Homo sapiens: one gene and its partners. The protein of the gene in region 3 purifies or fractionates together with the protein of the main gene of each other region. This does not show direct contact. Each region holds a gene or a part of one and is shown on either strand. Other genes may lie near its edges.

Region 1 (3,002 bases), on a different chromosome or scaffold from region 3:
AATGAAAAAAGTCTACCCTTAAACCCTCAGATCAGTCTTTCCAAAGAATTACTCTGTTTGCATTGTTGTGATTGACATTTGTGAAGTCCCAAGAAAAGATCTGTTTTCATGACAGTAGAAAATAGAAGTTTGCAAATTATTTCTTTACTCAAAGAGGATTAAAAGAGAACTCTAATTTTAATATTAAAGCTTTCTTTTCTTTCAGGGAATAAATTTACATGACTTTTTATATTATGGAGGTTTATTTTTAAATCATCACCTTTCTCATATTTTTTAGAGGTATTGTCTTATCTCTTCCATAATCTTGGATATTACAAAACCCTAAATAGGCAATCAATAAATGGTTAACTGGCTATGTGTTCATAAACATTTTAAACAGCAATTGGGTTTGTAAGGCTGTTTTGTTGTTTGCTTCTGAAGACCCCTTTTTTTAATCGTTCAAGGAACCTTCTCCAGATAAATTATCTAGTTGGTCTACTCTTAGTCAGAATTTATGCATGGGTGTATATATGTGTATATATAGATAAGTATACACATAAGTATATATGCATTAATTTTTATAAAATAGAGATGTAAAGTTTACTTACATTTCATAATATGGAAATATGGTTATGAGAAATGGAAAATGCTAGATGGAAAACCTCAAATACCTTTACAGGTTAAAAATATCTTTACTAAATTTTCCCATGAAAACATTTTGTGATAAAATGACAAGGGACTAAAATGAAGATCATTGATACAATAGAGTTACTTTCCTTGTTACAATGCAATTGTCTTATAAGTCATTATTCATTTTAAGGAAAATCAAAAAAATTAGATCTTACTAAAAATGTAGCATTTGATTTTAAGTAGCAAGATGCAATTTTGTGTTCCCTTTTTCTTTGTTACATTAACATAATATAGTAGATAGAGGGTTTATTGTATAGACATACACAAAAAAATAGTATTCTTAGGCCAAATTCACACATATCTCCTCACTAAGTAGTTCAATTAGATAATTTCTGGAAAAACATGTTTTTGACATTAATTGCTATCCAAAACTATATTTTAAAGCAGTCTTATTGGAGGTGTCCTTAACATGATGTAACTATAAATTTGATGCAGAAAGGTTTTACATGCTGTGGTTAAATAGCTTTAGAAGACATTTTTAAGTCACCACCAGCCTTTATTCTTAGAAAACAATTTATTCTAAATGATGATGCATATAGAAAACCAGTGTATTCTTTTATTTCTTTTAATACTGGTGGCAAAATAGGACGTGTCTGGAAAACCATAAGGCTACTTGGGATACTGTCCCATTAGCATTGCTGTTTCCATGACAAACCCTATTTTCAGATGGTTTGATTTGCCTATTTTTTTTTTAAACCAGCTATAAATTGGGGTCAATTTCCCCCCTCACAGTGTACTTAATTTAGCTTTTGGAGTAAATATATAAGTAGTATGAAAGACTTCTGAAGCTCTTCTTTCTAAAAAAGCAGTTTTCCACTTAAGCTTTGTGGGGACAGAGAGTCATATTTTTAATTTCAGAGCCAGCCAGTGTCAAACACGTGCAAAAGAGCCGGGCCGGATTTTTTCAGCTTGTCCTATGGTAGTCACTTGTCAGCCTGAGTTTACTGGCCTGGTCCTTTTGTCTCCACTGTAAGTACTGAAGCCTTCTGGTGTAGTTGTATCACCTTAATGTCCAGCATTTAACTAGGAAAGGAGACTACAATGAAGAGTTGGTGGCCAATTAAGAAAAATAATAGACTACATCATAAATCATTTCAGGACTTGAGTGGCCGCAGATCACTGTCCCTGATAGCATGTTTCAACCTTGGTATACATTTTTTTTAAGATGCATATTTACTGTGTGTGCTTTTGCTTTCTAATCCATCTATTGACTATTGGCCACAATTTATATAATGCACATGCAATTAATTGAAACCTGTGTCATGGCATTGGATATCTCTGATTCATTTCTTATTATAATAGTCTGTGTAACTGGGGCCTGAGAGATTAGAAGCAAAATGTAGTCGTACGTATGTCTAGAGGTGGACGCTGGTGATATTGTCATTGAATACTTTGCAGAATACACTAATGTCAAAGGCTTGCAGGATTAATGTGTAGGAACCAACATAAGACATGGAATATATATAAGAATTATCTAGTTACATGACTAAAAAGGAATTGCAATACTATCTTAAATTGAAGGCTTTTATTTCAATGTCCTTACATTTAAAATGGGATCTTACAAGGGAAGTACCAAAAAAGTAAAGTTTATTTTGATGACTCTCAAGATATATATGTTTGTTTTGAATGTTGGCAGATGCCAATAGCCCTTAACATTTGAAAAATGGTACTTGAACATCAATTATGTCTCAGAGTTCCCTTAAACTTTTTGGGCTTAAATATTTTTATTCATTTTGGTCATACCTTTGACAATGGATATGTTAAACTTTAACAATTATAGTGACAAAACAGCTTGCTTAGAACCTGGAAATTAAAACACAATTTCTAGAGTAATTTTTCTAAGTTGTATCATGTTTTGTGGTGACAAATGTCTCTACTCCATTACAGAATCAAGTTGCTATTCAAATATAATACTTCCTCTGGGGATCTTTGTTTATAGGTTGGTTTGGGACCCTAATAACAGGTCAAACAAAAGGGTTTCTCAAAGAAATTTTTCTAATAATATATAAGTTCAAATACAATTTATAAGTACATGTACACAATGAACATATAATAAGTATTCTGTGGGTCATCGTCAGTTTTATGAGTCAAGCAGATCCTTAAATTGCTTGAAAGAATAAGATACAATTTTCCAAAAGAGATTAAGTAAACTATTTCATTGGTATTCTAAAGAGGTGTATTTTTGAATGATAAAATGTAAATAACACTGCATTTTCTTGAGGTATTATTAATACACTAGTTGAATGGCATATTTGTGTGACTAGTAATTCTAAAAGCAAAGTATTAAAATAGCAATGATTTGTACATTTTACACACACATTTTTTAAAAGATG
Region 2 (3,500 bases), on a different chromosome or scaffold from region 3:
TAAAAGTACTTGCTGGGTTACACTAAATGAAACCTAAAAAACAAATAGATAAATAATAAAGGTTACACACAGCAGAAGCTTTGTTAACAAATTAACTTATATTAATAGTTGCTGCTGGGAAAACAAGCTGCTTGGTGACTTCCCTAAAGGGTGTCCCACGCATCTGGCGAATGAACAGACAGAGCTCCTGCTCCCGAGTGTCCTGGGAGGCACGTGGGCATGCCGCGTGGGTGGTCTGGGTGCTGCAGCGTGAGTTGTCCTGGGTGTGGAGTGTCAGTGCCTGCAGACCCACACTGCCTCCTCCTTCAGGGCTCACTGGCAGTTTTCTTTCCACCGCTTCAGTTTCCTACTTGAAGTCAGGTTTAAAAAGGAGAAGAATTGCACATTCCTCCTCAGTTTCTTAGAAACTTACCTTTGTGCCTGAGTCATTTCTAGTCCCTCTGGACCTGAGTCATATCTGTTCGCTGCTTTGTCAACCTTGTGCCCAGTTTAAGCTTTCGTAGTTGCTCCTTGTATGTGTGTTTTCAGGGTGTGGAGCGTTTTCTTTAAAAACGTCATTGCAAGCCATTACAGAAGAGGAAAGTCACATAGCTACAGAAGACATGGAAAAACAGATTTAGTGCCTGAAGTTTCTAGGAAAACTGGCAGTGCTGACAGCACTTATGATCACGCCCTAAGTGGAATCATCACCTGTGTGTCTCCTGCAGGCTGCTGTTGTCAGGAGGCAGCCTCTCCACCCCCTGCCCCGGCTGCCATTGTGGCTTCTACCCACCATTTTTCCTCCTAGATCTGTTTGGGGAGCACCAGTTCCTGAGCAGGGGCTCTGGCTGGTGGGCCTGTGCATCACCTGACCTAGAAGCATGTGGACAACTGAGAGTGGAGAGGCAGTTCCTGCAAGGAGCAAGGCGTGCAGTGTAGATGAAGAACCAGAAGCCTGGGTTCACTGCATCTCATCTGCCTTGCCTGGCTAGGCTGAAAGCTCCAGGGGCAGACTGAGCCTGCCCAGGCTCTCCAGGAACAGCTGATGATTCCTTGGGTGTCTTGCTTAGTGCTCCTGGCTTGACTTGACCTGGTCTTCTTGGCTCAGAAGCCCCTGCTTATTCGTGGGTTTCTCCAGGGGGCCGGGGAGGAGGTCGCACAGCCTGAGATGATGTATGCGTGCACTTGTCGTATCCCAGGGTTGTATTTCTAGATAATTTATCAGCAAAATGGAGGGGCTGGATGACTCTGCATCCCAGGCATGAACTTCATAACCCAGCAGTGGAAGGATGGTCCCAGAGTGGATGGGGACCAGGGTGGTTACAGTGTGTATGGCAGCTCCCGTGCATAGAAAAGTGACATCGGGCCAGGCGTGGTGGCTCACGCCTGCAATCCCAGCACTTTGGGAGCCTGAGGTGGGCGTATCACGAGATCAGGAGTTCAAGACCAGCCCGGCCAGCATGGTGAAACCCCATCTCTACTAAAGATAAAAAAAATTAGCCAGGCGTGTGGCGCACGCCTGTAATCCCAGCTACTCATGAGGCTGAGGCAGGAGAATTGCTTGAACCCGGGAGGCAGAGGTTGCAGTGAGCTGAGATCGCGCCATTGCACTCCAGCCTGGGCGACAGGGCGAGACTCTGTCTCCAAAAAAAAGTGACATCGAATACCATGAGATGCCTGCTGTTGCCTCTCAGCATCTCGGTGGGAGGACAGCACTGCCAGCGGCTCTGTCTGTTGCTGCAGGGGTGGCCCACATCTGCTGTGTCCACAGTGGTAGCCGCTCACCCACGTGACTGCCAAGCACTTGAAAGGTGGCTCATGAGACTGAAGAACTGAAGTCTTTATTTAATTCAAATGTAAGCAGCCATATGCGGTGACTGGCTACTGTAAGGCGCTGAGCGGTCACAGAGGTTTTCATTTCAGTCTTTCCATTCACACTCAAGTCTCCAGCCTTATCCAAAAGTTCATTGATGCCAAATCTTAGACCACATGGTTCGTGCGGGGAAAGTGGCTTCCAGGAGGCTGATGACCACAGTGGATAATACACCAAACACCAGAACATGGGACGCTTCTTTCTTTCTTTCCTTCTTTTCTTTCTTTTCTTTTCTTTCTTTCTTTCTCTTTCTTTCTTTCTTTTTCTTTCTTCTTTCTTTCTTTCTTTCTTTCTTTCTTTCTTTCTTTCTTTCTTTCTTTCCTTTCTTTCCTTTCTTTCCTTTCTTCCCTCCTTCCCTTCTTTATTTCTCTCTCTCTCCTTCCTTCCTTCCCTTCCTTCTTTCTTTTCTTTTTCTTTTCTTTCTTTTCTTTTTTTTGAGATGGAATCTCACTCTTGTCACCCCGGCTGGAGTGCAATGGCATGATCTCGGCTCACTGCATCCCTCCCGTCCTGGGTTCAAGCGATTCTCCTGCCTCAGACTCCCAAGCAGCTGGGATTATAGGCGTGCGCCACCACCCCCAGCTAATTTTTGTATTTTTATTTCTTTTTCTTTTTTTTTCTTTTTGAGATGGAGTCTCACTCTCCCAGGCTGGAGTGCAGCGGTGTGATCTCAGCTCACTGCAACGTTAGGATCACTGCAACCTCCGGCTCACTGCAACCTCCACCTCCTGGGTTCAAGCAATTCTCCTCTCTCAGTCTCTCAAGTAGCTGGGAGTACAGGCGCCCACCACCACGCCCAGCTAATTTTTGTATTTTTAGTAGAGACAGGGTTTCACCATGCTGGCCAGGCTGATCTCGAACTCCTGACCTCAGGTGATCTGCCCGCCTTGGCCTCCCACAGTGCTGGGATTACAGGCGTGAGCCACCGCGCCTTGCTTGTTTTTCACTTATTTTCTTTTTCTTACTCTCTGCAGGTCTCCTTTTTCTCTAGTACACATGTGAACCCGGCACAGGAACTGGATAGAAAACCTCTCGGCAAGGCCACATAGTCATGCACAGAACAGATGTTTGCTTAGCGCCTGCCCAAGGCCTCACCCTTAGTGAACTTGGGACAGTCCAAGAGTGTCAAAAGCACTGCCCTGAATGCTTTAGATCTAGTCTTTTCTTTGATCCTGAGAATGCCTTTGGAAGGTGTAAACAGCGGCCAGCTCCACAGGGACCAGCCTGCAGAAGGTGGGCTGCGAATACACCTGACCACAGCATCTTCCCTGTGTGTGTGGGCCTGCGTGTGGGTGGGGTGCAGGAGGAAGGGTGACAGTGCATGGGGCGAGAGTGCTTTCCCTTGTTTTTGGCCTGAGCAGGGGGTGCTGGGAGTTGCCATTCGTGGAGGTAGAGGCAAGTAGAGAAAACCAGGAGTTCCCTTCTGTGCAGGTGAATCTTGAGAGAACATTGTCTCGGTCAGGTTCCTAGCAGGACAGACGCACACTCAAGTGAGGATTGTAGGGGGCCTTGTTTGCAGAGGGACTCATTACAAAGGAGGGGCCAGCCCAGGGCCTGCTGCAGAGTGCAGGAGCAGGCCGCCCATGTCCCTCTAGCAGGAATGTGTCAAGCAGGCCACATGGAGGAGTGGAGCCTGCACAGGGCACAT
Region 3 (3,500 bases):
AAAAATTAGCCACGCATGGTGGCAGGCACCTGTAATCCCCGCTACTCAGGAGGCTGGGGCGGAAGAATCACTAGAACCCGGGAGGCAGAGGTTGCAGTGAGCCAAGATCACACCACTGCATTCCAGCCTGGATGACAAAGCGAGACTCCATCTCAAAAAAAAGGAAAGAAAATGAGCTTCCTCAATCTTGCCAGAAGCCCTTCACAGCTAGTGCTTTTCAACCCATTTACCAGATGAGGAAACTGAGGCTCAAAGAGGCTAACAGCCTCTCCCAGGTGACCAGGAGAGCAGGGATTCCAATTCACGGCCCCAATGACACAGAGACAGCACTGTGTTTCCTCGACAGCAGAGGGTTTTTCAGATTCCCAGAAGCAGCCACTCATTTGATGAACAAATGCTTATGAGCAGGAGCTACATGCTGAGCCCTACGCTGGGCACTGGGGCTCTGTGCTGAGCGAAACATAAAAGCCCTTGACCCAGGGAAGTGGTGCTCAGAGGAGGAAGACAGTGAACAGGAGGGGAGGTCAGGAGCCGAGGAGGGCGAGGGAAGACCTCACTGCCAGGGAAAGCAAAGACCTAGAGGCACTGGGAGCGAGGCAGGTGTGTAACTGGAGGAAGAGCCTTCCAGGTGGAGGTGGCAGCAAGGGCAAAGGCTCTGAGGCCAGAGCGGGCCAGGAGTCCAAAGCAGCTGGAGCTGAGTGAGGAGGAGGTTGGGGGGTGAGAGGACATGAGGCAGACAGATGGGGAGGAGAACAGTGAGGAATGGGGATGGGAAAGAAGCAGGAGGGAAGGCAGGTGTTGTGGACTTTGGCTTTATCCTGAGTAAGATGGACCCATAGACCCCCTGCTCCCCTCCCCTCCCTTCCCCTCCCCTTCCCTCCCCTCCCCTCTCCTTCCTTCCTTCCTTCGTTTTTCTACACAGGCAGGTGTTGTGGACTTTGGCTTTATCCTGAGTAAGATGGAGCCATGGACTCCTCCCCTCCCCTCCCCTCCCCTCGCCTCCTCTCCCCTCCCCTCCCCTCCTTTCCCCTCCCCTCCCCTCCTCTCCCCTCCCCACCTCCCTCCTTCCTTCCTTCATTTTTCTAGACAGGCAGGTATTGTGGACTTTGGCTTTATCCTGGGTACGATGGAGCCATGGACTTCCTTCCCTTCCTTCTTTCCCTCCCTCCCTCCCTCCCTCCCTCCCTTCCTTCCTTCCTTCCTTTCTTTGTTTCTCTAGACAGGGTCTCACTCTGTTGCCCAGTTTGGAGTGCAGTGGCACAATCATAGCTCATTGCCACCTCGAACTCTTCATCTCAAATGATCCTCCCACCTCAGCCTCCCAATGAGCTGGGACTACAAGTGTGCATCACCATGTGCAGCTAATTTTTGTATTTTTTGTAGAGATGGAGTCTCACTATGGTGCCCAGGCTGGTCTCCAACTCCTGGCCTCAAGTGAGCCTCCCACCTCAGCCTCCCAAAGTGTTGGAATTACAGGCATGAGCCACCACACCTGCCCTCTTATTTTCTTATCCTGTATTTAATTATCTGGCATAACAATTTAACCAAAGCCCTAAAAAGTCACCCAACTAGTTTTAAAAATTGTGTCTGGGCCGGGCTCGGTGGCTCACGCCTGTAATCCCAGCAGTTTGGGAGGCCGAGGCAGGTGGATCACAAGGTCAGGAGATCGAGACCTTCCTGGCTAACACGGTGAAATCCCGTCTTTACTAAAAAACAAAAAATTAACCAGGCGTGGTGGCGGGCGCCTGTAGTCCCAGCTACTCGGGAGGCTGAGGCAGGAGAATGGCGTGAACCCGGGAGGCGCAGCTTGCAGTGAGCAGAGATCGCGCCACTGCACTCCAGCCTGGGCGACAGAGCAAGACTCTGTCTCAAAAAAAAAAAAAAATTGTGTCTGTTTCCCCATTAGTTTGTCATTAACTAAGACATTTTCTCCCCAAATTTCTTTTTTTTTTTTTTTTTGAGACGGAGTCTTGCTCAGTTGCCCAGGCTGGAGTGCAGTGGTGCGATCTCGGCTCACTGCAAGCTCCGCCTCCCGGGTTCACGCCATTCTCCTGCCTCAGCCTCCCGAGTAGCTGGGACTACAGGCACCTGCCACCACGCCTGGTTAATTTTTTTTTTTGTATTTTTAGTAGAGATGGGGTTTCGCCGTGTTAGCCAGGATGGTCTCGATCTCCTGACCTCGTGATCCGCCCACCTCGGCTTCCCAAAGTGCTGAGATTACAGGCATGAGCCACCGTGCCCGGCCCCCAAATTTCTTACAGGAAATTTCTAAAGTAGACTAGAGTCCGCAGTATTTGAGCCCTGCATACCTCTCACCTGATTTCAACAACATCAGCTGCAGACTGCCCGACATTGTCTCCTCTATCCCCCTTCTCTCATACTTTTTCTTCTGGGTATTTTGAAGCACATTCTAGATGCCAAGTCACTTGCCTGTAAATACTGGAGCACACATTTCTCTGAGTGATAAGCACATTGTTTTAAAGCAGTCAGGAGGTTGTGCAATGTCATCCATCTCCCAGCAGCAGAGTTCACACATCCACACGCAACCTCCTGCTGCTTTATAGATGAAGGTGCCAGGTGAGGACATGAAAAGAATTTGCATTAAACATCAACTGACAAGCTTTTTTTTTTCTCCTGCCCTCTGTGCCGTTGGCACAACCCACCAAATTCAATCAAGTTCTTCTATATCTTCCAATACCCAGTCTGTGTCAAATGTCTCTGATTATCTGAGAACATCGTTTTATGTTGTTTGTTTTATTTTAAGAGACAGGGTCTCACTCTGTTGCCCAGGCTGGAGTGTAATGGCACAATCTCGGCTCATTGCAACCTCTGCCTCCTGGGTTCAAGCTATTCTCCTATCTCATCCTCCTGAGTAGCTGGGATTACAGGCACCCATCACCATGCCCAGCTAATTTTTGTATTTTTGCATTTTTAGTAGATGGGGTTTCACCATATTGGTCAGGCTGGTCTTGAACTCCTGACCTCAGGTGATCCACCCGTCTCAACCTCCCAAAGTGTTGGGATTACAGGCGTAAGCCACTGCACCCACCCTTGTTTGTTTTGTTTTAAGAGACAGGGTTTTGCTCTGTTGCCCAGGCAGGAATGCAGTGGTGCGATCATAGCTCGCTGAGGCCTCCAACTACTGGGCTCAAACGATCCTCCAACCTCAGCCTCCCAAATAGCTAGGACTAACACTACCACTAGTAGTAACTATGCTTAACTAATTTTTTTATTTTTATTTTTTGTAGCGACGGGGTCTCACTGTGTTGCCCAGGCTGATCTTGAACTCCAGGGTTCAAGCAATCTTCCCATCTCAGCCTCCCAAAGTGCTGGGATTACAGGTGTGAGCCACCAATGCCCAGCCCTAATTTTTGTATTTTTAGTAGAGAAGGGGTTTCACCATGTTGGCCAGGCTGGTCTCGAACTCCTGACTCAGGTGATCGCCCCCTCGGCCTCCCAAAGTGCTGGGATTATAGGCGTGAGCCACCACGCCTCGCCTG
Region 4 (3,500 bases), on a different chromosome or scaffold from region 3:
TTTTTTTTTTTTTTTTTTTTTTTTTTTTTGAGATGGAGTTTCACGTTTGTTGCCCGGGCTGGAGTGCAGTGGTACCATCTTGGCTCACTGCAGCCTTTCACCTCCCGGGTTCAAGTGACAATTCTCTGGCCTCAGCCTCCCAAGCAGCTGAGATTACAGGCGCCAGCCACCACGCCTGGCTAATTATTTGTATTTTTAGTAGAGACGGGGTTTCATCGTGTTGGCCAGGCTGATTCTGAATTCCTGACCTCAGTTGATCACCCACCTTGGCCTCCCAAAGTGCTGGGATTACAGTCATAAGCCACTGCGCCTGGCCCAGACGTGTATTATATTGTGTTTATTTGATAAATGCACTGTTGAACATGCAGTATATGTTCAGATAGAAAAAGGAAGTGCCAGAATAACCCAGCTTTAAAAAGGTCTTCAGAAGAAAGGAAGTCTCACTTTTTAAAATAAACAAATGAGAAAGTGTTTTTGAAGAGGAGCAGAAAATGGAGCAACTTGATTCCAGAGCACTCGCTCCCCTCGTGATGTTGCCGGCCACACGCACCTGCGACCTCGTGCAGAAACGTGCAGCAGTGCTTTCCAGCTGGTGGCAGGTGATGTACATGGTACGGAGACAGAGGGACGCCATGGTGGCAGGAGCAGCCGTGGTGGAGAGCACAGGGCGACACTCGGCTTGGCCTGGATGACCAGTCATGACGAGCTAAAAGTCCTGCCGTTTTCTGCTCACACGTCGTTCCCACGTCTGCACATTGAGTGGTGATGTTAGCCGGTGCTGGCTGAACTCTGTTCTCTGGCGGAGAGACTGCCAGTTTGCAGAGTGGACAGTTCCAGACCTCTGTGAAAGGGGGATCATGACCGTGGCACGTGTTGCTAGCACCCTCACCGCGTCCAGACTCCCTCTTGAGTGCCTTTCTGAAATGCTGCTCCTCGGCGCTTTCCCCATTTTACAGATGAGGAAACTGAGCACAGAGGTCTCAGAGGCCGGATTCAAGCCTTATAGCTTGAGCTGCATGGCCCATGATCTTATCCTCTGTGCTGTCCAGCCTGCTTGGGATGCAGACGTTGCGTGTAAAGTGCCTCCATAGTGCCCGGGACTCGGTTGGGTATTCAGTGTATGCTAACTCTTTGTATTAAAGTATGCAGAGGTATCTGCTTGTGTCAGTTTGAGGATGCTAAAACCTGAACATGTTTAAGACACATTCAGAAACCAGCTCATCTCTTCCTTTGATACATTGCCCAGCTGTCGGCCCTGGTGTGTTGGGTGTGTCAGTGACCCATGCAGTGAATCCAGAATTCACGATGTTCAGGCTGTGTCATAGTGCAATCTGTGATGCTAAAAAGTGCACAGGTTCCATAGCCAAGTTACAAAGACGCTCACCTCAGGATTCGATAAAGAGATAGTCAGGCGCTCTTTTGTTATCTTCGCATCTGCCTTCCTCAACAATGCAGTTCCAGGCCAATCATAACTATAAATGGAGGAAGTTCCCCTGAAGTAGTTGAGGAGAGGAACACTGCCTCAGAAAAGGCAGGAAGGAAATAACACCAGACCGGCTAACACTTGTTTCTGGTGGCAAGAACACAGGAAGGTAATTTTTTACTTTGCCCAGCTGTTCTGGTGTGGGGGGATTAGCAGTCACAGGAGGCTGGGTTGGCAGGTTTCCCCTTGCTCCTGATTTGCAGCCTTGTCGTGCGGCCTTAGGCACACTCTCCGTCGACACTGTCCCCTTCACCACCGCATGTGTGTCTGCAGGCCACGCAGGGATTTTCCTGAGTACTGGGGAGCTACCTTTTCTAGTTTCCTCAGGGAACCTCCTCCTTTTACCTTACAGAAGAGAGGGATGGGCTGCTAGGGGCAGGTGGGGGGCTGCAGACAGCCCACCTCCAGAGCCCCCGGTGGCGATGTATCTGACTTCAGGGAGCTTCTTCAGTGGTTTTGAAAGCAAGATGCTTGTGCATTTTGGACTACAGAGACAACATTTGTTACTTTTTTTATGACTCCAGTTAAACCTTAGTGGGAACCAGATTAAATAGTAAAGTCTTGAAAAAATACCTGTAGCAGCGCAGCTTACCTGCCGCTTTCCTTTTGTTTTCTCCAGGTAATATTAACGGCTGCTATTTGAACTATTACTTTTTTCTTCTGGCTGCTATTCAAGGAGCTACCCTCCTGCTTTTCCTCATTATTTCTGTGAAATATGACCATCATCGAGACCATCAGCGATCAAGAGCCAATGGCGTGCCCACCAGCAGGAGGGCCTGACCTTCCTGAGGCCATGTGCGGTTTCTGAGGCTGACATGTCAGTAACTGACTGGGGTGCACTGAGAACAGGCAAGACTTTAAATTCCCATAAAATGTCTGACTTCACTGAAACTTGCATGTTGCCTGGATTGATTTCTTCTTTCCCTCTATCCAAAGGAGCTTGGTAAGTGCCTTACTGCAGCGTGTCTCCTGGCACGCTGGGCCCTCCGGGAGGAGAGCTGCAGATTTCGAGTATGTCGCTTGTCATTCAAGGTCTCTGTGAATCCTCTAGCTGGGTTCCCTTTTTTACAGAAACTCACAAATGGAGATTGCAAAGTCTTGGGGAACTCCACGTGTTAGTTGGCATCCCAGTTTCTTAAACAAATAGTATCACCTGCTTCCCATAGCCATATCTCACTGTAAAAAAAAAATTAATAAACTGTTACTTATATTTAAGAAAGTGAGGATTTTTTTTTTTTTAAAGATAAAAGCATGGTCAGATGCTGCAAGGATTTTACATAAATGCCATATTTATGGTTTCCTTCCTGAGAACAATCTTGCTCTTGCCATGTTCTTTGATTTAGGCTGGTAGTAAACACATTTCATCTGCTGCTTCAAAAAGTACTTACTTTTTAAACCATCAACATTACTTTTCTTTCTTAAGGCAAGGCATGCATAAGAGTCATTTGAGACCATGTGTCCCATCTCAAGCCACAGAGCAACTCACGGGGTACTTCACACCTTACCTAGTCAGAGTGCTTATATATAGCTTTATTTTGGTACGATTGAGACTAAAGACTGATCATGGTTGTATGTAAGGAAAACATTCTTTTGAACAGAAATAGTGTAATTAAAAATAATTGAAAGTGTTAAATGTGAACTTGAGCTGTTTGACCAGTCACATTTTTGTATTGTTACTGTACGTGTATCTGGGGCTTCTCCGTTTGTTAATACTTTTTCTGTATTTGTTGCTGTATTTTTGGCATAACTTTATTATAAAAAGCATCTCAAATGCGAAATCCATGAGCCGGTTCTTTGCGTGGTTTGTCCTCAGTCGCTGCTGGTGTGGCGTGTGGATTCCTCCCCTGTCGTGTAGAAGGCGCAGAGCTTCCCGAGTCGGGAACTGAGGGGAGGGTGGGGAAGTGCGCTCCTGCACAGCCCTCGGATGCTCCGGCGCGTCTCCTGATTCTGCAGCCTCCTCTGCATGGAAGGGTAGTTTCAGCATTTGGAGAAGACAAAAAACAAACCAAAAAACCCT
Region 5 (3,500 bases), on a different chromosome or scaffold from region 3:
TAGTAGAGACGGGGTTTCACCATGTTGGCCAGGCTGATCTTGAACTCCTGACCTCAGGTGATCCACCTGCCTCGGCCTCCCAAAGTCCTGGGATTACAGGCATGAGCCATCCACGCCTGGCCTAATTTTTGTATTTTTTTTTTTAGTAGAGACAGGGTTTCACCCTGTTGGCCAGGCTGGTCTTGAACTCCTGGCCTCAAGTGATCTGCCCACCTTGGCCTCCCAAAGTGCTGGGATTACAGGTGTGAGCCACCGCACCCGGCCAGCATTGGCAATTTTTGACATCTCTATGGTGACCGAATGAATTTTTTTCTTACAAAAAAAATTTTAGTTTTGTAAGAAACTCCCAAACTGCCTTCCAAAATGTGTGTCCCATTTGCATCCCCACTAGCAAGGAATGAGAGTTCTTGTTGCTCCACATCCACCCCAGCATTTAGTGGCGTCAGTGTTCTAGCTTTTAGCCATTCTGATAGATGCATGGTATTTCATTGTTGTTTTAGTTGGCATTTCCCTGATGACATATGATGTTGAGCGTCTGTTCATATGCTTATTTGCTCTCTGTATATTTTCTCTGGTGAGTTGTCTGTTCAGGACTTTTGACCATTTTTAAGTAAGTCTTCATGTTTCCGTATTGTTGAGTTTTAAGAGTTCTTCGTATATTTTGGGTAGCAATCCTTTATTGGATAGGTCTTTTACAGATATTTTCTTCCAGTTTGTGGCTGGTCCTCTTCTTTTCACATTGTCTTTTGCAAAGCATACATTTTTAATTTTAATGAAGTCCAGCTTCTTTCTTTCATGGATTGTACCTTTGGTATTGTATCTAAAAAGTCATCACCAAATTCAAGGTCATCTACACTTGCTCCTAGGTTGCCTTCTAGGAGTTTATTGTTTTGTGTTTTACATTAGGTCTGTAATTCACTCTACATTAGTTTTTGGGAAAGGTGTAAGGTCTGTGTCTAGATTCCTTCTTTGCATGTGGATATTCAGTTGTTCTAGAACCATTTGTTAAAAAGATAATATGTATATTGCCGTTGCATCTCCATTGTATTGCGTTTGCTTCTGTGTCAAAAATCAGTTGACTGTTTATGGGGGTCTATTTTTGCCAAATGCATTTTTAATTCAGCCTAAAAATTTTAGTCCATTGTATCTTGCATAAATATTCATACTGTAGAATATTTGAATTGTATTTTTTCAGCATCCTCACTGAGGGAAAATGTTACAAATGTATGTCCTCACATTTGATGTAGACCATTGCATTTGGGGTTTAAGTTGTTAAATGGTTCAGGCTAGGCATGGTGGCTTACACCTATAATCCCAGCACTTTGGGAGGCTGAGGTGGGTACATCACTTGAGGTTGGGAGTTGGAGACCAGCCTGGCCAACATGGTGAAACCCCATCTCTACTAAAAATACAAAGATTAGCCAGGCATGGTGGGGGGCACCTGTAATCCCAGCTACTCGGGAGGCTGAGGCAGGGAGAATTGCTTGAACCTGGGAGGCAGAGGTTCAGTGATAGATACTACACCACAGCAGAGCAAGACTCCGTCTCAAAAAAAAATAATAATAATGGTTCAAAGCTGACTTTAAAAAGGGATGGCTAGAGACCAGGGACGGTGACACACACTTGTAATTCCAGCACTTTGGGAGGCCAAGGCAGGAGGATTGCTTGAGCCCAGGAGTTTAAGACCAGTCTAGGGAACATAGTGAGACCCTGTCTCCACAAAAAAATAAAAATAAAGAGATTGCTGGAATGTTTAACATTAACCAAATTTATTTCAGTTTTTACTACTGTGAAAGTTTTGTTGTTGTTGTTTTTTGTTTTGAGACAGGGTCTCGCTCTGTTGCTCTGAGTGCTGCCAGAGTGCAGTGGTGCAGTAATACCTCATTGCAGCCTTAACCTCTTGGACTCAAGCAATCCTCCTGCCTCAGCCTCCCAAGTAATTAGGAATATAGGCACATGCTACCAGGCCTGGCCTTACAGTTATTTTTTGTAGAAACAGGGTTCTCTCTATGTTGCCCAGGCTGATGTTGAACTCCTGGGCTCTAGCAATCCTCCCACCTTGGCCTCCCAAAGTGTTGAGATTACAGCCATGAACCATTTTGCCTGGCCCTTTTTTTTTTTTTAAACATAGCATTACATTGTATGAGGTATTATAAGTAATCTAGAGATTACTTGAAGTATATGGGAGTATGTGAGTAGCGTATCAAAGTTGTATTTATTGAGTGGCTGAAGGTGAGGTATTATTTTGTGGATTTGTCTTTAAAATCAACATTGAAGTATTTTATATTTTTTTAAATTATGAGATAGCATTACATTTCAGTTAAATTACAATGCTTTTAACTAGGTAGATTTCCTCTGCGGCATTATGATTTTAATCCAGTGGTTGATGAGTATGACTATATATGTTTTTCAATCCCTGATCAAACATTAAGTCCTTATTAGAAATCAGTGAAATGTGGCCAGGTGCAGTGGCCCATGCCTATAATCCCACACTTTGGGAGGCTGAGGCGGGTGGATCACCTAAGGTCAGGAGTTTGAGAGCAGCCTTGCCAACATGCGAAACCCCATCTCTACTAAAAATAAAAAAATTAGCCAGGCCTGGTGGCTTGCGCCTGTAATCCCAGCTACTCGGGAGGCTAAGGCAGGAGAATCACTTGAACTGGGGAGATGGAGATTGCAGTGAGCTGAGATTGTGCCAGTGCACTCCAGCCTGGGTGACAGAGTGATGATCTGTCTCAAAAAAAAAAAAAAAAAAAAAAACTATGAAACTGGAGGAGGAGAAGCCAAAGGAAAACTAGAGTATGAGACAAGCAATTCTGAGTATCAGTTCCCAGGAAGCTGCCTCAAGTTGTTTTTTGAAAATATTAATAACAGATTTTATATTAAAAGCAATCATTGTCACTCCTCTCAGAGGAGTGGTGGCCAGTGCCAGTGCCAGTGATGGACATGTGTGTGGATTCTGCTTCTCATCCTCAGGTCTGAGCTCTTTCTACTCGGAGCTGATGAAAGGACTGGGTGCAGGGGGGCGCCTCTGGGAGCTCCTGGAGAGAGAGCCCAAGCTGCCTTTTAACGGTGGGTCTGAAAATTGTTTCTTTGCTAGGATTAACAAATGTGGCTTTGAACAATGAGACCAGCTCTTCCCCTGTCTGCAAGGGAGTGAGGGATGAGCCACAGTAAGGATGTGGCTCCTGCTGCATGGCGGGCCGGGTGAGGAGGTGGTCAGGTTTTCTATGAGAGGGGGTGGGACAGCTGCTGGGGCACTGTTGTGGGCCAGGGTGTCCCTGGATGCATGGGCTGGCCACATAGTGTGCTGCCCTCTGTTCCCCTCCCTCCATCTGGGTGTTACCGCAAAGGGCAGGATGGAAGTCAGTGTGGCCCAGGGCTGTGTCCCAGCTAGTTTACCAAATTGATCTTCCCTAGTGATTCTGACATCTCTGTGGAGGGCTAGGGTGGGAATAAGGGAGGAGGAATCAGACATAAGAAAATATCTAAGTTTCTTG
Region 6 (4,020 bases), on a different chromosome or scaffold from region 3:
AAGTGGGAGAGGGAGAGGGTGTGGCAGGGGTGGTCTGTGTGGCAAGAGGTAGAGAGAAAATAGTGGATCAGAGCAGGAGGGGGAGGAGCAGGGAAATGAAGCTCCTGTCCTAGGCACTGAAGTGTGGAGTGGGGCTGTGGCTAGAAAGGGGAGAGAAGATGCCTTTCTGGCCTTGCATGAGTCGTGGCAGAAAGGAGGAATCGCGAAGAGGAGCCGGCCATACCCAGCACACACCCCGAAGCCAAGCTGCTCATTACTAGAAAGGCTTATTCCCCCACAAGAAGTTAGTGCGGGCCAGCTAAGTGCCTACTATGTGTGCAGTATAGAAAGAAGTGCCCTGGAGAACCAGGTCGCGGGAGGCGGAGCCAGTCAACAGGGCTTCACCGAGGGGGCGAATTCTGTACACGGTTGTGAAGGAGGGTGGCTGTGCACGCGTGCAGGCTCCGAGTGCAGAAGACGAGGCAGGCCAGGGAGGAGGCGGAAGGAGGCGGAGCCTGAGCCGGAGGAGGGAGGAGGAGGGAGGAGGAGGAGGGAGAGCCGAAGCCGCGGAGGGTGGGAGGTGTGAATGGTGGACGGGTGAGGGGAGTGCCAGAGGCAGAAAAGGGAAGGAGGCGAGGAGGAGTAGTCGTGGCCCGAGGGCGTGTGGTGGGGCGAGAGCTGAACTGGACGGGAGGAGGGAGGCAGTGGCGGTGGCAGCGGGGAGGGGGAGGAGAGAGGGAGGGGAAGAAGGAGGAAGCGAGCGCGGCTGCTGCAGGGGGAGGAAGACGGGGAGGAGGAGCCGTGCGCCGCGGCGGCGGCCGCCAGGGGAACCGAGCGCCCGGCGCGGAGAGCGCGGGAGCGGAGCAGTAGCCCGATCCGGGGCCGCGGGCCGAGCTGCCGGTGAGTGAAGCCCCGAGGGGCGCGGCGGCCGGTCCCCGGGGCTGGGCGGGAGGCGCGGGAGGTTGCGGCGCCGGGGAGGAGGGAGGGGGGCCGGCTTTAGTCCAGGGGCCGGCTTTAGTCCAGCCCCCGGCTGGCCCGGCCTCCCGCCTTCCCTCTGGCTTCCTCCCTCCGCTGCCTGCGCGAGGGGGGCAGGTCCCGGGCGGGCCGCGGGCTGGGGGTGGTGCTGCCCGGAGGGCGGGCGTCTAGGGCCGGAGGGTGGAGCTGGGGGTTCGGGGGTGTACCCGGGGGCGGGAGGCTGGACAAGGACGGCTCTAAATTGGCTGGAGGGGCCCGTCGGCGGCGAAGTTGCTAGCTGGGGGCAGAGACGGCCACGCGGTTGCAGGAGTAAGAGATCCCTCTGTGGCGAGTGCGTGAGACGAGGAGTCCGGCGTCCCTGCCATCCCCGTCGCCCTCCCCGCCTGCTCGGCCCCGCTAGCTCCTCTCCTTGCCTCCGCGTGTCCCCTAGCTCTGACCCCTTTTGGCTCCCGGTTCGCTGCCGCAGCACTGCCGGGTCTCCTTGGCCCCCGCCCTGACCCTTTCGGCCTCCGGCTTCCCCTGACCCCTGCTTGCTTCGCCACTGCCCCGTTCCCGTTTTCTTCCCTCGCTAGTTACCCCTCCCGCTTCCTAATTCCCGGTGCAATTGCCTCTTTGAGACCTCTTTTTTTTTTTTTTCCTCTCCTTCCTTTTAGATTGGCCAACGGCTCCTTTCAACCCTGCCTCGTTGGTGGCCACTGGAGAAGCGCGGGGGGCTCCCCCAGACAGCCGTGGGGACAAGTTAGAGCCAGCACTTTACCCCGGGCCTTGCGTGTAGCTTCCCCTCCCCTACTCTCGGTGCCCTGGTGTCTGGAGGGGGGTTGTGGGGGTGTGCCCGCCTTACATGGTCCACCACCCGGGCAACCCTCTGGGCTTGTGTTCCATCTCACTCTTGCTTCCTGTACTGTGGTCAAGGGGAACCACTGCATCATGTCCCGGTATAGCTACCAGAGTCTCCTGGACTGGCTCTATGGGGGCGTGGACCCCAGTTTTGCAGGCAATGGGGGCCCCGACTGTGCTGCCTTCCTCTCTTGGCAGCAGCGGCTGCTGGAAAGTGTGGTGGTCCTGACCCTGGCTCTGTTGGAGATCCTGGTGGCCCTGCGGCACATCCTGAGGCAGACGAAGGAGGACGGTAGGGGTAGCCCTGGCAGCCAGCCAGAGCAGGTGACCCAGCGGCCAGAGGAAGGCAAGGAGAGCCTGAGCAAGAATCTGCTCTTAGTAGCCCTGTGCCTGACCTTCGGGGTGGAGGTGGGCTTTAAGTTCGCCACCAAGACCGTCATCTACCTGCTCAACCCCTGTCACCTGGTCACCATGATGCATGTGAGTCTGTTGACTTTTTCCTGGGCATCCTAAGTGATAAGAGTCATTTATGTGCTCAGGACACTCCATAGTGTACAGCACCTCATCCCGGCGGGCAGGGGGACCTTTAAAAATGATTTTCCAACGAGTGGCTGCCTTTGTGCCGATTTCAGGTTTGGCTTTCTTTCACCTTTGCACAGTGCGTCAGCCCCACAGTGGAGGTGAGGAACCTTGTGCCTGAACCCTAGGAACGACTGGCACTCACCCTGGCTGCCCCTCCCTTCCAGCCCAGCCCAACCCTGCCGTGCCCTGGGCTTTCACAAGCAGGAATTCCAGCCCCAGCCAGGTGCCCTTTCTGAATCACATCAGTGGACCATGACCCAGCTCCCTTGCCTTCTGTGGTAGTTAATTTCCCAGGGGCCTGGTGACACTCTTTCCTGGAGGTGGTCGCATAAACTTTCTCATCTACACTGTGGTACTTTGGGGAAATACTTTTACAGGTTTCTCTTAATGACTCTTTCATTTGGGAGTGTATGCTCTTAGAGTGAGGTCTGCCTTTGCATTTTGAGGCATTGGAGCAGCACCAAGCTCCTACTAAATGAGTTCTGAAGCAGGTCCCCAGGCTGACATGTGTACTTTGGGCTGGTGATCACTATGGTGAGAGGGTATTTCTTTTTTTGCAAACCTCTCCATCCTATTACTGTCATTCTGTCTCCTATGGTCATAGTCCAAGGGTGCTTAGGAAGCTGATTTCTTTACCTCATCGACTTCCACCCATTAGCGGTGCTAAGGAAAACAAATGGGATTGAAAAGGCAAGTTGCCAGATACATAAAAATAATCTGGGTGAGGACCAAGAGTGAGACTGTCTGTATTCAGCCTGTGTGGAGAGATGTTCTAAAGCTATAAAATCATGGAGGAGGAGGAAGAGGAGACTGGGAGAGCAATCAGTCTTTTTTAGATTTCAGGCTGTGGAAAACCGGGTGTGTTTTATTCAGGGGCAGTTTTGAAACCTGTCATTAGCATCTTTACTGCCTTTATGTTTGTAGAAGGTTATTCTTTGGAGACTTGTGACAGCCTAGCTTGGGGCAGGAGGTTGAGATTATTATCTCCATTTTACAGGCCTGGAGGGGTTTAGGAATGGCAGGTCATTTGCTTGCAGCCAGAAGATGAATTAGTGCCTGGGTTAGAAAGCAAACTCATCCACCTTGAGGTTGCAAGCTGTCAACCCCAAAGTGAGGGTGGCAGTGGGTGGTGGGGCAGTCCTGTGGGAAGACTCAGGCAGATGAGCACCACACTGTCTACCCATGGCTTGGATACTTGCTTGCACTGTGTTCCTAGGAACTCATTTGATTGCAGGCTTCTGGATGTGGTGAATGACCCCAGCCCCTTCCCTTCTTGCAGATATGGTAAGAAGGTATGGATAACTTTGGAATAAAGTGGCTGTTTTTGATTGGGTGGCTGTAAGCATCGGGGCTGGAGTGGGCAGCATTTTTTAAGAGAGGGCTTCTTGGGAAGTGATGCCATTCACAGGAAGTCCAGGGCTGTCCCAGCTAGACCTTCTGTGTAAATTTGAGCCAGTCTTCTTTCTTTCTTTTTTTATGAATGGGCTTTTTGTTAATGATAGGAAACAACGCATCTCAGCCGATGCTGTGTGAGGCTGTCGGGACAGGAGTGCTTTTTTAGGATGGCAGGTGGTGAGGGTCAAAGGGTGCATCTTCTACAAAGTGGTCTTGAGGCCTCTGGCAATCACATATCTAGAAGGTCGACAA
Region 7 (3,500 bases), on a different chromosome or scaffold from region 3:
GATAGCCGGCACCTGGAATACAGGGCCACGTGTGAGATCTTTGGCTGATCCCCCAGGTCTCTTCATGCCCACCCCGGGGTCTCTAGGGCTCACACCAGGCAAGCTGGTGGGAAGGAGGCTAGAGAACCGGAGGTGGGCAGCTGAAGCAGAATGAATGTGTCTTGGAGCTCCCTGTGCTGTCCCAAGGGTGTCACCTCCCGCTCCTGCTGGGAAGAGCTGCTGGGGATCTAGGGTGCTGAGCACTGTCAGGGGCACCTGCTGGAAGGTGGGGTCTCCCCCCAGCTATACAAGCACCAGGGAAGGATATCATCAGCAGCGACGGACCACGTGTGAGGGCTTCTGTCTTGTGGGGTTAACACTGATGGTTATGGTGTGGTTCTAGGAAGGGACTGTCAGCAGGAGCAGGAGCAAGAGCTACCGGCTGCAAGACCGCACTGCACGGCACTATCAGAGATGCATCTCACCTCTTTCCCAACGTCACCGTGCAGGAGATGGAATTCCATGTCCTTTTTTTTTTTTTTGAGACAAGTCTCACTCTGTCACCCAGGCTGGAGTGCAGCTGCACAATCTTGGCTCACTGTAACTTCTCCCTCCTTGGTTCAAGTACTTATTCTCCTGCCTCAGCCTCCCCAAGTAGCTGGGATTACAGGCATGCACCACCATACCTGGTTAAGTTTTTGTATTTTAGTAGAGACAGAGTTTTACCATGTTGGCCAGGCTGGTCTTGAACTCCTGACCTCAAGTGATCTGCCTGCCTTGGCCTCCCAAAGTGCTGGGATTATAGGCGGTGAGCCACCACGCCTGGCCCCATGTCCTCTTTAGAGACAAGGATGCCAGGCCCAGGAAGAACAATGGCTCTGCCAACTGGGCAGTGGGGCAGGAAGTGGCTAGTGAAACTCTCAGAGGCCGTGGTGGATGGTTCCTCATCTCCTAACGCCTGCTGTCCTCCCTCTTGGTAACAAAACCCTGGTATCTTGGCTGAGCATGTGGCTGCCCAGGACAAAGGCCATCCCCTCCAGCCTACTGCTGACCACACTGGGTTGCCACTCAGTCACTAGGGGGCAGAAGTGGGACGTGAACTTGGGGGGTGTCCTGAGGGGAGGAGGGCTCCTATGTCTTTGCTCCACCCCGTTGGAATGTGGGGGACGCTGGCACACCCAGATCGTGCTGGACCAGGAGGTGACCTTGAAAGGGAAGCCGTAGTTGCACAGTACAGTCAGAGGTCTGGGCCCAGATCCTGTCAGCCCCTGCTGGCCCTGGCCATGCTGTGAGCTGCTCTCACGTGGGAGCTGCCATGTTGGTGCGTGTGTTGGCCTCTCCAAGGGCAGTGCTGCTCCTAGTGGCACTAGGCTTGGCCTCTGTTCTTCTGGTCATGGCTGAACCACATCCTAACCAAATTGAGACTTTCAGCTCCATTTCCTGCCTCTTCCCTCTCACAAGCCCCCCTGCCTGGTTGGGCTCTCCACCCAGAGGCAACAGACAGGAAGTCTAGAAAAGGCCACCCCTGCCTGATCTGAGGGCCCTTCATGAAGGTAGCAGCCATTCCCTCAGCACGGCAGCCAGGACACCGACCCTGTCGCGGGCTGGCCCCACCGCTCACCGTATTTCTGCTTGAGGAACAGCGAGGACCCGCAGCACTGCAGCTCCCCCTTGGCCATGATGGCGATGCGGTCTCCCAGCAGGTCAGCCTCGTCCATGAAGTGGGTGGTCAGCACGATGGTGCGGTCACTTTTCTGCCGCTGAAGAAGATCCCAGATGGCCCTCCTGGAGATGGCGTCCATGCCCGAGGTGGGCTCGTCCAGTATCAGCACCTGGAGGGAGAGACACAGTCTCGCGACGCTGGTAGAGCCACACCCCGGGCCCAGGCTGGCCTTGCGGTAGGCCCCATCGAGGGGTTCGCGGAGCCGGCTTGAGTCCTCCAAGGATGGTGATGGCCTTGTCTGGGGTGTCAAGGGCCAAGGTGCCCGGGCCATGGCGGAAGGGCCATCCCAGGTCGAGCAGGAGGGGAACCCACTGCCTCCAGTCCCACCGCCACACCTTGGAGCCTGCGATGAGGGCGATGCCGATGGAGAGCTTGCGCCTCATGCCCCCGCTCAGGAAGCGGCTCCGTGAGTTCCACTTGTCCTCCAGGCCGATGATGTGCAGCATCTGCTTGACTTCTTCAGGGCACTTCTGACGTGACAGGCCCTTCAGCTGCAACGACAGGGGACGCAGGGAGATGCAGGGCTCCTGGCGGGAGGCCGACCCTGGCCAGCGAGGTTCTGGTGAGAGGAACCTCTCCTTGACGTAGCTGGGGAGATGCAGGGCTCCTGGCGGGAGGCCGACCACGGCCAGCAAGGTTCTGGTGAGAGGAACCTCTCCTTGACGTAGCTGGGGAGATGCAGGGCTCCTGGCGGGAGGCCGACCACGGCCAGCGAGTTTCTGGTAAGAGGAACCTCTCCTTGACGTAGCTGGGGAGATGCAGGGCTCCTGGCGGGAGGCCGACCCTGGCCAGCGAGGTTCTGGTGAGAGGAACCTCTCCTTGACGTAGCTGGACTCAGAACCCTGGCTCCTGCCCTCCTGGCTCCCTTCCTCCAGTTTAGCTCCTCGGAAGACTGCCCCAGAAACTCGAGCACATCAGTGGAAACACCCCTGCACACCCCTGGCCCCCAACTCACCTGGGCGTAGAAATAAAGGTGCTCTGCGACTGTCAAGTTGTCAAACAGGATGTCGTGCTGCGGGCACAGGCCCAGGCTCTTCCGGATCTGAACCATGTCCTGGGAAATTTCATACCCGCTGATGTATGCCCGTCCACTGGTGGGGGGAAAGAGACCTGGGGCCCAGCAGGAGACCCCACATTCAGCATGAAGATCCTGCTCGTCAGCACCCGCGGTAATGACCCCCCACCCCCTCTCTGTCTCCCCTAATTTCCTCTGAGGACCCTGCCCATGAGAGGGCACGGAACCCCACTCCCACTGGGGTGGGCTTTGGCTGGGCCAGTGGGAAAAAGAAGCGGCATGGAAACAGCCCTGCCACTGGGACGCACAGCTGGTCAGGGAGGAGAAACCCACGACACACACACACAGAGTCACCACAATCAGCCCCCGCCCCGGGTCCCAGCCTGTGCCACTGCCAGACACTTTGGTGCTTGGGGAAGACAGAGTGAAATGCCAGTGGCCGGTGTGGTGCACAGGGGAGAGCTCTCAGAGAGGGGTTTGGTGACAGAATTAGCATGGGGTTGAGCTGCTCCTGCGTGGTGGCCTCTGTTTTCACTGACCCTGTCAAGCTTGGGTATTCACAGACAGAGGCGGTGAGGAGGGCAGGGGTCCCTGGGGGTCCCCCTGCATTCATGGACAGAGGCGGTGAGGAGGGCAGGGGTCCCTGGGGGTCCCCCTGCATTCACGGACAGAGGCGGTGAGGAGGGCAGGGGTCCCTGGGGGTCCCCCTGCATTCACGGACAGAGGCGGTGAGGAGGGCAGGGGTCCCTGGGGGTCCCCCGGCATGTCCCGGACAGAGGCGGT

What was found.
Region 1: the proteins of UPK1A (region 3) and FZD1 purify together in Homo sapiens (affinity purification with mass spectrometry; one large-scale study listed by BioGRID and IntAct). This does not show direct contact.
Region 2: the proteins of UPK1A (region 3) and IMPA2 purify together in Homo sapiens (affinity purification with mass spectrometry; one large-scale study listed by BioGRID and IntAct). This does not show direct contact.
Region 4: the proteins of UPK1A (region 3) and SLC15A4 purify together in Homo sapiens (affinity purification with mass spectrometry; one large-scale study listed by BioGRID and IntAct). This does not show direct contact.
Region 5: the proteins of UPK1A (region 3) and ABCB10 purify together in Homo sapiens (affinity purification with mass spectrometry; one large-scale study listed by BioGRID and IntAct). This does not show direct contact.
Region 6: the proteins of UPK1A (region 3) and TMEM164 purify together in Homo sapiens (affinity purification with mass spectrometry; one large-scale study listed by BioGRID and IntAct). This does not show direct contact.
Region 7: the proteins of UPK1A (region 3) and ABCA3 purify together in Homo sapiens (affinity purification with mass spectrometry; one large-scale study listed by BioGRID and IntAct). This does not show direct contact.

The regions. Positions count from the first base shown.
Region 1 is NC_000007.14:91,268,825-91,271,826, forward strand, and holds the end of FZD1 (frizzled-1), read left to right. Parts: 3' UTR 1-2,502; downstream 2,503-3,002. UniProt on the Homo sapiens protein: Receptor for Wnt proteins. Activated by WNT3A, WNT3, WNT1 and to a lesser extent WNT2, but apparently not by WNT4, WNT5A, WNT5B, WNT6, WNT7A or WNT7B. Contradictory results showing activation by WNT7B have been described for mouse.
Region 2 is NC_000018.10:12,005,507-12,009,006, forward strand, and holds part of IMPA2 (inositol monophosphatase 2), read left to right. Parts: intron 1-2,831; exon of another isoform or gene 2,832-2,903; coding exon of another isoform or gene 2,904-3,085; intron 3,086-3,500. UniProt on the Homo sapiens protein: Phosphatase that can use myo-inositol monophosphates, myo-inositol 1,4-diphosphate, scyllo-inositol-1,4-diphosphate, glucose-1-phosphate, beta-glycerophosphate and 2'-AMP as substrates in vitro.
Region 3 is NC_000019.10:35,669,517-35,673,016, forward strand, and holds part of UPK1A (uroplakin-1a), read left to right. Parts: intron 1-3,500. UniProt on the Homo sapiens protein: Component of the asymmetric unit membrane (AUM); a highly specialized biomembrane elaborated by terminally differentiated urothelial cells.
Region 4 is NC_000012.12:128,792,959-128,796,458, reverse strand, and holds the end of SLC15A4 (solute carrier family 15 member 4), read left to right. Parts: exon of another isoform or gene 1-1,592; intron 1,593-2,102; coding exon 2,103-2,263; 3' UTR 2,264-3,265; downstream 3,266-3,500. UniProt on the Homo sapiens protein: Proton-coupled amino-acid transporter that mediates the transmembrane transport of L-histidine and some di- and tripeptides from inside the lysosome to the cytosol, and plays a key role in innate immune response.
Region 5 is NC_000001.11:229,531,208-229,534,707, reverse strand, and holds part of ABCB10 (ATP-binding cassette sub-family B member 10, mitochondrial), read left to right. Parts: intron 1-2,976; coding exon 2,977-3,072; intron 3,073-3,500.
Region 6 is NC_000023.11:110,001,894-110,005,913, forward strand, and holds the start of TMEM164 (transmembrane protein 164), read left to right. Parts: upstream 1-1,220; 5' UTR 1,221-1,285; intron 1,286-1,607; 5' UTR 1,608-1,881; coding exon 1,882-2,271; intron 2,272-4,020.
Region 7 is NC_000016.10:2,295,729-2,299,228, forward strand, and holds part of ABCA3 (phospholipid-transporting ATPase ABCA3), read right to left. Parts: intron 2,813-3,500; coding exon 2,658-2,812; intron 2,194-2,657; coding exon 2,038-2,193; intron 1,812-2,037; coding exon 1,601-1,811; intron 13-1,600; coding exon 1-12. UniProt on the Homo sapiens protein: Catalyzes the ATP-dependent transport of phospholipids such as phosphatidylcholine and phosphoglycerol from the cytoplasm into the lumen side of lamellar bodies, in turn participates in the lamellar bodies biogenesis and homeostasis of pulmonary surfactant.